Linked DNA regions of Homo sapiens: region 2 is linked to region 1. A link means that fine-mapping ties the variant in region 1 to the expression of a gene that starts in the linked region. Tissue or cell type: whole blood. Region 1 holds a variant in brackets; the other region holds the start of a gene. All regions are shown on one strand. Distances are from middle to middle.

What was found. PIP is the estimated chance that this variant, and not a neighbour inherited with it, causes the effect.
Region 2: it holds the start of RABGAP1L, and the variant in region 1 is fine-mapped to the expression of RABGAP1L in whole blood (INTERVAL, PIP 0.93).

The regions. Positions count from the first base shown.
Region 1 is chr1:174,698,920-174,701,604 of GRCh38, reverse strand. RABGAP1L (RAB GTPase activating protein 1 like) reads right to left here. Exons shown (of 26, transcript NM_001366446.1): 16 at 1,955-2,080. Among named protein-coding and RNA genes, the nearest start is that of GPR52, 250 kb to the right of the region's middle. The variant G/A (reference allele first, on the strand shown) is at 1,419.
Region 2 is chr1:174,158,388-174,161,072 of GRCh38, reverse strand. It overlaps RABGAP1L (RAB GTPase activating protein 1 like), which reads right to left and starts at 1,553. Exons shown (of 26, transcript NM_001366446.1): 1 at 1,416-1,553. It overlaps RABGAP1L-DT (RABGAP1L divergent transcript), which reads left to right and starts at 1,786. Exons shown (of 4, transcript NR_121197.1): 1 at 1,786-1,909; 2 at 2,083-2,186. RefSeq lists silencers at 1,148-1,327, 1,448-1,847.

The sequences.
Region 1 (2,685 bases):
GGCCCGATTATTTTTTGTATTTTTTACTAGAGACAGTGTTTCACCATATTAGCCTGGCTGGTCTCGAACTCCTGACCTCAAGTGATCTGCCCGACTTGGCCTCCCAAAGTGCTGGGATTACAGGTGTGAGCCACTGTACCCAGCCCAGGGTTCAATTCTTAACTAGCTAGAAAAGAAATGTATCTTCTCTTTGGAAATCATCTAATCTGGGGTCTATGATGTTTCAGTATATTTTTTGAACACTTAGAAAATTCTAAGCCACGACAAACTATTTAGAAATCTGTCTTCAGCATATTAAAAATGGCAAAGCAAAGAAATTATGCAAAGGTATAATATATAAAATTGGATATCTTCTAAAAATGCCTTTATGGTAACTTTATTTTTTTCTCCCAATTTAAACAAGCAAATGGTTTTCAAAAGCATGAACAGCAAGGTACAAAGTATTAGCATAGCTATTACCATAACTGAAAGACAAAGGCCACCTTCATTTTGTTTTCCTAAATAGACCACAAAAAGAAGAATAAAAAACAAAATAAGCCATTTCTTGAACTACATGCTCTCTTTGAAAAATAGCCAAATGTGCCCATTAGGTACTTCAAATGGAACGTCCAAATGCTCATTCAGTTAACTGAAAAAAAACTGCTAACAGAAAAATGTGGTTGAGGTTCTTCATAGTACCACACATCTGTTATTTATTAGGTATATTTACTTGATTCTCAAAGCCCTTAGGAATACTGACCTTTGAAAATATATGAATTTTTTGGTAAATAAAAGGCAAAAAGCGAGTAATCCCAAATATTTACTTGGTAGAATTAAATCGTTAAAAAGGAGCTTATTGCTGTTAATATCCATATTTACCAGATTCTTCTACATAGTCTTTTTCCTCCTTAATGCCCATTTGTCATTGTACTTATGGCTCGTTTTACATCCCTGCCTCCTTTTATTTCTTTTCAATTTTAAAGTCTTCTACCCTCCTACATTCCCTTCTCCCAATAAATTGTTCCTTTAACCTCACTGCAAATTCATCCTCTACTGCCCTGTTCTTCTAATCTCTCAGTCTCCTACTGGCTTCACTTCCCTCTTTAGACACCTACGGATCCCCTGGCAGTTCATATCAATGAGCTCCTACTAGCATCTTCTGCTCTCACATTCCACGAACCTCCTTCCTCAACCATTTTACCCTTCCCCAATATGGAATCAATCCATCCATGTATCTCCTTCACATTTCTCTTGGATTCCCAAAACCCCTTTTAAACAAAGTCACATAAACATGCCACAAAAACCCATTATAAATTTAAGATTATCAACTTCAGGTAGAACTCCAAAGCTAGTTAAAAATTCCTTTTGTCAGCTCTGGTCAATCACTTTGCCTGTGGTCACAATCTTTTTTACTGTGTAATATTTGGTATATATAAAAG[G/A]ATGCATGTTTCTCACACACATTTATAAATACGCATTGTAAAGCACAACAACAACATTGAGATTAGGAATTATATTTAAAAATTTTTAAATGTATCCCTACAGTATTTTAGTATGTTTTATTCTCTTATGAATATCTTTCTGGCTTTTCCAAGTGTTCTACGTGGACTCAAATAAGGAAGTGGTGCTAATTAGTATGCAGAAAGCTCTTAGGTATTTCAATTTTTACTCTGTAAATATCTCCATTCCTCTACAAACAATACTTGGCAATCTCTTAATGATTAAACTCATTAGATTCTCACTTCAAAGTATATTTAACTTGAACATTTAAAATGTGAGATATTTTTAAAATAGTAAAATGGCTAAATAAACATATTATGATAGACCAATGTAGATATTGGTCTGAAACTAAATCCATGTACATTTTCTATAATATTCCATTAAACTTCTATAATTCATTATTGCTTACCAACTCTATTAGGCTTTTTCTATGACTCAACAAATCCCTGAGTGATAAAAGTTCCTAATTTTTATTTACCTGCATTAGTCTCTCCAACTGGTAGAATTTGCAATGAAGATCTTCGAAGTTGTTTCTGTAGAGGTCTCTCAAACCATAGTCGTACATGATTTTCACCAAAACACAGAATGCTTGTTCCTCTGGCATCTACAGAAAAATATATACATATACAATATAAATAAGTGGCATTTTGCCAGAATGTCAAAAAAGTTCCTTCATGTTATTAGTCCTCTGCATAAGTAGCTGAAGGCCTGGAGCAAATGAAGTCCTTCAGAGCCAGTCTTTGGCAGAGTGACATGACCTCCTTACTTGAGATGAATTATCTTCTTTTGTTAATTTTAATCATGTTGTCATTCATTCATTAGGCTACCTTTAAAAACAGGCAATACACTCATGATTAAAAAACCAAAGCACACTTTGGGAGGCCAAGGCAGCCAGATCACTTAAGCCCAGGAGTTCGAGACCAGCCTGACCAACATGGCAAAACCCTGTCTCTACAAAGAATAAAAAAATTAGCCGAGTGTGGCAACATGAGTGTGTAGTCCAGCTACTTGGGAGGATGAGGTGGAAGGATCGCTTGAGCCTGGGAGGTGGAGGTTGCAGTGAGCAAAATCACGTCACTGCATTACAGCATGGGTGACAGAGCGAGACCCCGTCTAAAAAAAAAATAAAATAAAATAAAATAAAAACAATGTAAAAAGATCTAAAGGTAAAAGTCTCGCTCCTCCCTATCATTATATATAAACTAATCC
Region 2 (2,685 bases), 540 kb after region 1:
GCTAACCCCTCAGGCAGGTGTACATTTAATACAATTTGATGATAATGTATACATAAAGTTCAACTAGTCTTTCTCCTTAGAAATCTCATTGTCAATTTCATAAGGGACGCTCTACTGAGAAAATGAATCACAGGCCAGTTTTCTAGTACTAGGAGCTTGTGAACCAGTATTTTCCATGAACAAAATCCACTTCCAATGTGATCACAAAAAGCAAACTTCACATCCGTATCTTCTGACATCATAACTAATGGATATTCTACGGAAGATGCCAAATATAAACACTACTGTAAGAAAAGTCAGAAGGTTTTCATGAAACTGTGTTTTCAGAATTTTAACAAGCAACTACTTACCTCCCACTATGCACGAGGAAATTTAAATGTATTAAAAATCCCTAAACCCCTCCAGTGCCAAAAATAAAGGCCTTAAAATCATTTTCCAAACTGCGCTGAAATCTGTCAGGCAAGCAAAAGTTCTCCTTACCATTAGTGTAATAAGGCTGGCATTTCAGTTTACTTGCATGAAACCAATTTTGCAAGTGACCACCCAAGTTTTGGTACATATTCTAATATAACCCTATCTGAGAGATCCAAGGACCTGGACACACTGCCTAGTATCTGAAACCCGTCAGTTCAGCTCCCATGCACCCGGCCACCTCCCGCTAGCCGGTGGCCCCTTTCCACATGCTGACGCACTGCCCAGCCCTGTACCGTTGGCGACCAGTGCAAAGTACTAGCCCAGTCTCAGAAACTTTGACTCAGTTATCAGGACACTGAGCACTCACAAGGTGGGTGGGGGTTGGGGGGAGGTGTTTGTCATGGCTCAGGAGGTCAACTTTGAAGCGGGGCATTCCCTACAGGTAGGGATCTGCCCGGAACGCATCCCATCCCAAACTGCAAAACCACAAGCATCAACAGCAGGAGCCGAGCAAAGTGCTCGGCGGAGGAAGAGGAAGGGCGAGGGAGAGAAATGGTCGAGTACAGAAGCCTGCGTGTGGGTAAGAAAATACCCTAACCACTCGCCCACCGGACGCAGGGCGGCTGGGACTGCGAATCCAGCAGCAGCCACAGCGTAGCAGCGGGCGGCAGCCGCCGAGGCAGCAATGTCAGGAGGGCACAGCTGGAGGAGGCGGCCGCCAAAGCCACTACCCCACCCCCAGGTAAGGGCGCCGACCCCGCCCGCCCTATCCGCGAGGAGCGGCCACCTGGGAGAACTGCGGTGTCCGGGAGGCGGCCGACAGTCCTGAACCCGCCCCCTACCCTCCTTACCGCGGTCCTCCCGCATCCCAGTCCTCGGCTGGGGCCCCATCTCGACCCTCCCCAGGCTCAGCCCGACGCCAACACACCCAGGCAGCCTCGGCCCGCGGATCCGGGCCGCCGGGCCGCCCTCGTGTCCCTAGGAGGCCGTCCTCGCCTCACCTCTTCACGTCTCCGCGGGCGCTGCCGAGACAACAACTCCTTCAGGCGCCCGCGTTCCACCCTCCACCTCGCGCTCTGAAGCCGGGCCGGTCCCGTTCGCTCCGCCACCGCTGGAGCCCGAGGAGGGCGGAGGGAACTGAGAGGGGAGGGGAGAAGGGCCGCCTGGCAGGAAGAGGCGAGGGAGGGGGCGGGCCGAGAAGGAGGGGAGGAGGCGGTGGCGGCGGGTCGGAAGCGCGCTCGTCCAGGCCCCTCTGCGCGGCGTGCGCGCTCCTGATGTCGGAGGCGCCCACTCTGCCGGGCGGCGGCGGCGCACACGCGCGTGCACGTCGCTGCGTGGCCGCGGTTGCGCCGGGAGCGGAGGAGTGAGGTCCTGACAGAACCAGAGCTGTTAGAGCAGGGACGCGCGAAAGGCGGGAGTACGGGCGGCGCTGGAGAACCTCCGCGGCGGAGGGGCCTGGGGGTGGGACCGCGCCCGCGAGCCCGCCCTGACCGGGGTGCGTTCTACTGGCAGTTGCTGAGTTCGGAAGATTAACTCTGAATGTGGAGAGATTATTTTCTTGCTCGTAAACCTGGTTTACATATTTTCATTCTTAATGCTCAGTAATCTTAAGGAAAGTCACCTGAAAGAATACTTTTTCACCAAGTACTCTTCTGCGCCTGTTTGAAGGTGTCTGTGTGCTTGTGAAGCGCTCCCTTGTTAGTTCCTTCTGTGAGACTCGGGGGAGACTGAAGAGGGAAATCACCTGCGGGGAATGAACAGGAAAGCAATAAGTAAGCACCATTACGTATTATATGAAGAAAATGTGCCCTCATTTGCACCTTTTTATCCTTTGGGGTAAAAGATGTTGAGGTACAAACTAGGTAGAGGTAGAATAAACCAACGCTTTTTCGCTACGAAGATTGTACTGATCCTTGAATTGTGGACATCCTTCTTCTAGATCCTGCAACCAGAAATGACCTGTAAATTTTCCGAATCTCCTTAGCACTTTGTTCTGTAGTTTTGTGGCACCTAACATGTCAGGCTTATCCAGGTTGCCCTGTGCAGCATTTTATCCCACTAGACAACCGCTGTGAACCTGTATCATTCATTTGTATCTTACACTGTGCACCCTGCCTAACTCATAGGAAGCACTCAATGAATGTGATTGCATGGATAAGTGAATATAGTGTCCAGTGATTGCAGCCATAGAATGACTTTAGTTTAAATATCTCCCTTCTATCCCACTTCAATTCCCCTGCCCTCATTTTCCCACCCATATTTAAAAGCTAC